2 separate regions of the Homo sapiens genome follow, and region 1 is linked to region 2. Evidence: fine-mapped expression QTL. Tissue or cell type: whole blood. Region 2 holds a variant in brackets; the other region holds the start of a gene. All regions are shown on one strand. Distances are from middle to middle.

The links. PIP is the estimated chance that this variant, and not a neighbour inherited with it, causes the effect.
Region 1: it holds the start of ABTB2, and the variant in region 2 is fine-mapped to the expression of ABTB2 in whole blood (INTERVAL, PIP 0.98).

Annotation. Positions count from the first base shown.
Region 1 is chr11:34,356,206-34,360,524 of GRCh38, forward strand. It overlaps ABTB2 (ankyrin repeat and BTB domain containing 2), which reads right to left and starts at 1,805. Exons shown (of 17, transcript NM_145804.3): 1 at 496-1,805. The coding sequence starts at 1,378. RefSeq lists an enhancer at 731-840 and a silencer at 1,791-1,990.
Region 2 is chr11:34,429,046-34,433,435 of GRCh38, forward strand. LOC105376622 (a long non-coding RNA gene) reads left to right here and starts at 3,244. Exons shown (of 3, transcript XR_931180.3): 1 at 3,244-3,402; 2 at 3,967-4,072. It also overlaps the pseudogene CIR1P3. The variant C/T (reference allele first, on the strand shown) is at 1,782.

The DNA.
Region 1 (4,319 bases), 73 kb before region 2:
CCCACTTCCCTCCGCCCATCTTACTTATCCAAGGTTCAGGTCTTTAAGTTGGGACCCTTTGGTTGCTGCTATTGAGCTGGGGAAAACTAGGGGGCAGAATCAGTCAATCTAACCAGCTGTTGGGGAAAGACAGCAGCTAGAGACCTAGTCAATCACGGTAAAGAGCCACGGGGCAGTAAGTTTCATTTCAAGAGAGGTTCAGGAATGGCTTGGTCAAGAGATTCAATCTCACCCAATCAATGAACAGCCCGCAGATAGTAACAATGCCACGCAGAACAGGATGGAGATCATTCACAAGTTTACCCTCCAAAAGTCAGACACCCTTAGAACAATCTCTGGCAAGTGCCATGTAATGAACCCTATCCTCAGACCAAACGTTTTCTCCCAAAGAACTGGCACAGCCACCAGCTTTGTCTCAGGAAATTCACTCCCCCAGTAGCCCAGGGCGGGATTTCTTGCCTACCCAGTCTGCCAGTCCGAGGCCCGCGCGCTTACCATTGGCGTTCTTGCCGCAGATGAGATGCTCATAGGGCTGCAAGACGCCCCAGAGCTCGGCGTCGTTGTTGATGACCATCTCCAGGGCCTCAGCAGACACCTCCCCGCCTCCGGCCCCTCCGCCATCAGGGCTGTGGCTGGCCATCACCCTGGCCCGGATCTCCTCCACCAGGTTCTCCATGCAGGCGGTGAGGGAGATGGCTGCGTACTCGTGGATGCGCACGGAGATTCGGGTGTCCACCATCCAGCGGAAAAAGCGACCCACTGAGAAGGTGAGGCCGCAGCGCGCGGACTTGCCCCGGCGCAGCCCGTCGCCGGCGCTCATGCTGTACAGGGACAGCGCCTTGACGGCTGCCAGCGCGCAGCTCTCGGCCAGCGCCCAGCTGTGCACCAGGCGCACGGCGCTCTGCACCTCAAAGCGGGTGCACTTGGCGTGCAGCACGCTCAGGCGCTGCGCCTCGCGGGCCACGCGGATCAGTGCCCTGCGGAGCAGCCCGGCCAGGCGCCTCACCGCCTCGGCGGAGAACTGGGGCAGCCGCCGGCCGCCAGCGCCTTTGCGGAGCACCCGGGCCACGTCTCCTTCGGTCCAGGGGAACTCCTCCAGCTCGGGGAGCCGCGGACAGCGCGAGAAGAGGTCGGCCACTTCGGGGTCCTCGGGCAGCACCGTGTTCACCGTGTCCCAGCTGTTGTGGCGGCTGTTCATGGAGCCGGAGTAGCACCACCAGGCCGCCCCGCGGTGCTGCTGCGCCGAAGAGTTGAGCGCCTGCGAGTTGGACTTGGAGGACGAGAGGCTGAGCGAGCGGCACGAGTCCCCGGCCCCATACCCGGAGTCCAAGGTCAAGTCCTCCAGCGTCTTCAGAGTCGAGCTGTACGTCCCGGCCATGGGGAGCCTGCCGAGGGCGGCGTCGCCGAGCGAGGGGCACTCACAACTCCATGCCCTCTTTCCCAAGTGGGCAGAAACAAGCTCTAGGCCCTCCGGGCCACCCTCCTTCCTCTCTGCGTCGCGGGGCTCGGCGGCCGCATTGCCTGCCCGGAGGCCGCGGGAAGGTGGCCGAGATCCGTGGCCAGCAGGAGCCCCACGCTCCCGGCGTCCCGACTCGCAGCTGCCACTGGAAAGAACCCCGTCGCTACCCCCCGGCACTCCCCCTTGTCCACCTCTAATTCCCACAAGCAGAGAGTCAGTCCTCCACAGAGAAGGAATCCCGGGAGAACAGGGCGGCGGCGGCAGAAGGAGGAGGCGGCGGCGCAGGGCGCAGGGCGCAGCGCGAGTCCGGGACCAGCCGGCGAGAAAGCGCTCTGCAAACTTCTGCGCTGCGCCGGCCGGCAGCACAGCTGGGTACCCGGCTGCGTCCGACATGCAAATAACCCCGGGCGGCTTACCAATCACCGGCCGCGATGGGCGGGGCTGCACCAATGATCTCCGAGGGGGCGGTCACTATGCAGATTTCACTCTGCCTCGGGTTAAACCCCGCGGCGAAGGAGGCGGGGCTGGAGGCCGAGGGTCGGGCACGCGGCTGGGATGGGGGTGGGGATGGGGGGGGATGGGGGGGATGGGGGGGTGGGGGAAGGGCGAGCCAGCCAACTGGGAGGTGGAGGTGGAGACCGGAAAGCAGCGGTCGAAACGATAGCTCCGGAGCTCACGATTTAAAGAAAAATGCAAAGGAAAAGCTACAGGGCGCTGCCACCTTCCCGCCACCCAGGCTTTGGGCGTTCGCTGCTCGCTTTCGAGCCCTCCGCAGCCAGGCGTCCTGGGGTTGGGGCCAGGAGAATGGGGAGGGCCCCATCCAGGCGCTCCACCTCTCCTCCACCTTCCGCCAGGCCCCTCCCGCAATCCGAGATGAAACGCTGGCTGTGTTTGGAGGGAGGAGGGAGTCCCTGCCTCTCTTTCCAAGTCCGTCTGGTTCCTTTGCGCTGCCGTCTAGGCTCCAATAAGGACAGAATTTCTTAACCTGGTATCTGATCAATGGACGGGCCCCAGGAAGCCTGTGAGTGCCTCCGCCCATTTGTGGTTTCACCTGCAGTTTTCTGAGTGCCACTATGGGGAAGGGGCACCAACTTTTGTCAGATTCTCAAGAGGATCCGTGACTTCCCTGTTACCTCTGTGTGACGATACCACTTGCTGTCAGGTGGGTCCTTTTTGTCCGAGATAGACAGTGTTCTTACAGGAAGAATGAGAAGAAGGTGGCAGAGCAGTCCCTCGCCCTGGGCTGAGCTCGGAACACCTAGCTGGATGCAGGTGTTCGCCTCCTAACGCGTGCCGGTGGGCGAGCCGTATGCCCCCGCGGGACCCAGTTCCTCCGGGGTACAATGAGTGGCTGACCTCCAGGCAGCGCCAGTGCCAACCTGCCTCCGGGCGGGTGTCCCAAACGGTCCGCCAGAGCGCTGTTGGTTCAGCAGTCCCATGCCCGGTGCAGGCATGTCCCGCCGCTGCCCTGTGGCTACTCACACGCACGTGCGCAAACGGACCTGTGCCCCCTCCAGTGGAACCGCAGGCTCAAGGCGGGGATTGTGCATTCGCTCTCCCCAAGTCAGCCTCCCCCACTCCTGAATGGCTCCTTTGTGTTGCATTTTACACAGTTCTGACCTTGGGCCGTGAGTTGGATATGAACTAGAAATGTCTGGTTTGTCTCTTTCCTTCTTAAATTAATGGCCTTTACCCCCGGTGAAACTGCTTTTTATTTGGCAGTTTCGCTTAATTTTGCCTTTCCGCGGGTCTTTATTTATGCAACATCGCCGCCCGATGGTTAGAATTGGGAACAGAGTCAAAGATGGAAGTACTGTAATACCAAAGACGCAAGTCAGCAGAGATCAAACTAACAAAGGAGAATGCAGTCACACTTTACAGACGTGAGATTAGAAATTAAAGTAGGCAATGAGGTCCAACTTGTCAAAAATACAAAAGTAAATTTTATGCAATTTAAAACTTTATTGGGGAAATATAATATTAAAGGCAATGTCGCCCTCTAATGGATATATTCAAAGGAAATGAATTTCAGAAAGGTTTCCCTGTCCCCCCTTTTCTTCGTTGTGCGCACCCATCAAACCTAAAGAGAATTACTTAACTGGAAATTTACAACGGGGAACTTACTGAATGAAAGGTTATTGGAGGAATCATCTGGAGTGGGAAAAAGAGCCTATGGGATTTATATTAATATATTCAAATTACTTGATGACTTAAAGTGTAGATAATCAAACATGCCTCCAACTGAATCTGAGAATCCTGTGAATGTTGACCTGCAACATGAAGATATATTATGCAAAATTCAGCCATGGGAAATGCTTCTGAACAAACAACTGAGTTTCTTTAATAAATAAGTTTCAAGGAAAGAAAGAGATGGAGAGAAGACCTACACATTTAAAGAGACTTGAAAGACATAATAACCAATTACAAGGTGTGGAACTTATGTGTATTTTGAATTTGTTTTAAAAAGCCAGTAAACATTTGACATTATGAAACCATTAGGAACACTGCCTCGATGTTTGCTCTTAAAGAATAACTGTTTTTTTTTTTTTGATGTGGTAATGGTAGTGTGGTTATATTTATCAAATGTTCTTATCTTTTAGAGACACATGCTGAAATAAGTGTTTTGTAGCCCTCAAGAGTTGGCTTCCTCAAGGAAAAAAGGAAGACAAATCCTCATGGAAAAATCTGGTAAAGGGACTAGGAAGTTAGGAAAGACTGTAGATAGATCTCTTGTCTTTCAAATTTTCCTCAGTCTTCTAGTCAGCCTGAGGACTGGCAGTACCAAGTAAACCCAGAATGTGTCTGTGTTTGTGTTTTGTGTGATATGGGAAAAAGAATAGGAGGAAGATAGATAGAGATG
Region 2 (4,390 bases):
ATGTATGACTCACCCTAGGAATATACGTATACTTATTTGTAAATTTTTACTTTGATATAATACTAAGTTGCAGAAAGTTACAAAAATAGTATAAGTAACTCCAGTTTACCCTTTACCCAGATTTTGCTCTATTTATTTTGTCAAGTGCTTGCTCTCTTTACTTACATGTGTATATGGATATATATGATGTATATTTTTTTCTGGCCCATTTGAGAGTAAGTTGCAGACATCATGCCTCTTTACCACTAAATACTTCAATGTGTATTTTCTAAGACACAAAAGAAATCTCTGATGTAAGAGATTACATAACTGCAGTCTAATGATCAAAACAAGGAAATTTAACATTGATACAATATTCTTATTCATATTAAGTTTATGGCCCATATTAAATTTCATAAATTGTCTCCATAATGTTTCTGAAGTCTTTTCCGTCTGTTCCAAGACCCAGTCCAGGAACACTCTTCATACTTAGTTGGCATGTCTCCTTAGTCTTTTTTAAACTGGAACAGTTCTTTAGTCCTTAACTTCCATGATCTTGATATTTTGAAAAGGCCAGTTGTAGACTGTTCCTCAGTTGGAGTTTGTCTCATGTTTCCTCATGATTAGATTCAGAGTATGCATTTTTGATAGGAATGCCACAGAAGCGATGTTGAGTCCTTCCTGGTGTACCATGTCAGAAGGTTCATAATGGGGGTAATATATCTATTTTTTTTTTTTTGAGACAGAGTTTCACTCTTGTTGCCCAGGCTGGAGTGCAATGGCATGATCTTGGCTCACTGAAACCTCCACCTCCCTGGTTCAAGAGATTCTCCTGCCTCAGCCTCCCGAGTAGCAGGGATTACAGGTGCATGTCACCATGCCTGGCTAATTTCGTACTTTTAGTAGAGATGAGGTTTCTCCATGTTGATCAGGCTGGTCTCGAACTCCTGACCTCAGGTGATCTGCCCACCTCAGCCTCCCAAAGTGCTGGGATTACAGGCATGAGCCACTGCACCCGGCAATATATCTATTTTTTAAAAGAGGACTCTTTTTGAGAATATGGGAAAGTACTCAAGTCCTAAAGGAAAATATATTTAAAAATGAAATGGGAGGGTATCTGTATTTGAGCCAGGCATCTGATCAAATTCTCCCTCAAATCCCTCAAGGCAAATTGTCACTTACTCTGGTTATTTGTAACATGGTTTATCCCGGTATTACCTCATCTATTAATTCACTTGCTTGTTCATTCATTTAGTCAAATATCCTGGGTGCCAGAAAACTGTTGCAGGTGCTAAGAATAAGCAGAAAATTCAAAACCAGAAACAAAACCCACCAATCCTCATGGACTTCTATTCTAGTAGGAGAAATACCCAATAAACAAATGAAATCGGTTATATAGTATGTTAAAAGGGAGAAGGATCACAGAGAAAACACAAAGCAGGGAAGGCATGACAGGAAGTGCCAGAGGAAGCTATAAGATTAAAAGAAGTGGTCAAGAAAGGTCTTCCTGAGAAGACAACATGGTAAACTACAGGCCCCCAAGCTGAGCCACGTGGCTTCTGGCTTCTTTTGAGGATGCAGAGTTTAAAAGGGCATTAAGAGAAAGATGATACAAATCCTAATATTGTATCATCTATAATTTGCCCATCGAGTAAGTTGTTTCACACCTCAGGGGCCAGCCAGACAAGAGAAAGGCAACGGTGATTGTTATTCATTGACATTTAGAATATTGGGTGGGATGGGATTGGGAAAAATCCCAGTACAAAGTTTCAGAGAATTAAGCTAGTGCTTGCTAAGTAGTT[C/T]GTTTATGTTGCTTACAGAGCTAGCCACTGCTTTCCCCAGCTCTGGCTCAAGGATGGGGAAATCCTCTGACAATGTCATGTGCAAGAAGGATGTTCATCTTGCCTCCAAATCCAGTATCAAAAAAGTATGAATGGGCCGGGTGTGGTGGCTCATGCCTGTAATCCCAGCAGTTTGGGAGGCTGAGGCCGGCGGATCACTTGAGGCCAGGAGTTCGAGACCAGCCTGGCCAACATGACGAAACCTCCTCTCTTATAAAAATACAAAAATTAGCCGTGTGTCTGTGGTCCCAGCTACTGAGGAGGCTAGACAGGAGAATCACTTGAACCCGAGAACGGAGGTTGCAGTGAGCGGAGATGGCGCCACTGCACTCCAGCTTGGGCGAGAGAGTGAGACTTTTATCTCAAAAAAAAAAAAAGTATGAATGGCAGAACAGAAAATATATGATAAGAAGAAACAAGAAGAATGAAGGCAGCAGTATCTTAAAGAACAATAATCATATGAAAATAGATTGCTTATGGGAGATGAATGTGTAAAGAATGGCCTTAATTTCATTTGTGAGGCCCCACCAGGAGCTAAAAAAGGAAACAGAGAAAAAAGAAAACAGGAGAGAATGAAGACAAATTTAAATGGCAGAAAGAAGCTCCATGAGAAAAATATGCCAAAGATCACATAAACAAAAAAAATTAGCCCTTTGATATTCAGGTTAGAAATATGAACTGCATTAAATGTCACAAATGGGATCATGTCACTGCAGATTGAGACTGTCCTTTGTTTGGTCTTTCTGGAATCAATGCAAGTTCAGTTCCCACTGATGAGGCAGGTAGGCACTAGACATGATTTATTTGTTTCAGAATTTATATAGAGGACAAACAAGGAAATAAAATAACGTTTCTCTTTATTTTCTCAGTTAAAAAAAAAGAAGTAAATAGATCTTCATTTTCAGGTTGCCTGGAGCAATTGCTTTCCACATCTGACACAAGAAGGAGAATTTTGCTTCATGTCACAGTGTCTCAGAACTGAATCTGTTTATGTCCACGTATCCTGGAACAGGAGCTGCATATAAGATGATACAGGGCAACAGGTCCTCTTGCTTGGTGGAAAATGATTCTTTGAATGAACTTGTTTAGCTAAGTCTCTGCCTGCCCTTTGCTGTCAGGAAGGAGAGGCAGCTAGAGATCTTCCTCCTCCTCCTTCATCCTTGCTGCTCTGCAAGCTGCCTCTTCTCCAGCACTCTCATTCCTGCCTTTGGCTGTTCCTCAATCCCATGTGGCTCTCTAGGCCTGTCATGCTCTTATATTACAAATCCATAACAACTTCCCATTTTTTGTCTTTTAAAGACTGAGAAGAATGTCATTTTCTTGTGGTTCTTCTCAACTATGTGGGTACAAAACATGGATTTCACAATTGCTTTACTCAGGGTGCTTCCCGTAACACCGCGTCTTCAGGTGGGCAGAGGGTAGTGCAATGCTGGAGTTAAATTCTAAGAATGTAGAACACTCACTCAAGATCTTCCTTTATTCCTGCCCACTTTGTCACAGGCAGAACAACGTAGGAGTGGAGATGTGATCTCCAGAGCCACACTGTCTCGTTCGAATCCTGGCCCCATTGCAAACTATCTGGGTAACTTCGGGAGGTTACTTAACCTTTCTGTACCTTAGTGCCCTCAGATGTAAAGTGAAGGTAGTAAGAGTCCATTCCCTCTTATAGGATTGTTATAAGGATTAGATGGGTTAATATTGGAAAATCCCTCAGTGTAGAGCCTAGACATAGTAAGAGCAATATTAAGTGTTTGTCAATTAAACAAAATATGTTTTGAAAGGATGGTTTTGTGGGATAGGAAGGTTTGGTTTAGGGCAGTGGTTGGCCTTTGTTCATCATAATGTGACCTTGGAGCCAAACTTCAGTGTCCAGAGGCAGTCTCTGAACTACAGCACATCCCGCAAGGATGAGTATAATAGTATATCCTACAACAAAGTTTGCTGTATTTTCTGAACAGCGTTGCAACTCATACAAGAGCTACATGGCACTCCAGAATAAATAGAAATACTAATAATCAGATAATACAGATAACTAACTCATATGGTTCATATAATCTTCCCTAAACCTCCAACTACCCTTGGAGGTCAGTGTGGCCGGTGCTGCTGATCAGCCACCGATATTCACTTCCCTTTTCTTTTATAATAGAATGCCTGAGTTTTGTCAAGCCCATGGCCACCCAGCCAGTGACTACATTTCCCGGTTTCCTGTATAGCTAGGCATAGCCATGTGACGAAATTCTGGCCAATGGAATGTGAGTAGAAATAAAGTGTGCTATTTCCAAATTGTGCCCTAAAAAGGAAAGGACATGGGCTCCCTTTGCTCCTTTGTCCCCCTTCCCACTGGCTGGCATGCAGTTATGATCAAGTGAGCAGCTACATTGGACTCAGAGATGGAAGCTATGTATTGAGGATGGCAGAGTTGCCTAACCAGCCCTGTACCATTTAGGTCTGAAATGCTTTATTGTGAGAGAAATAAGCTTTGATCTTGTCTATGCTATTTTGTTGGTTTTTTGGGAGGCTCTTTTTGTTATAGAAGCTTGGGTGATACCTAATATAGAAGGTGTTACTAT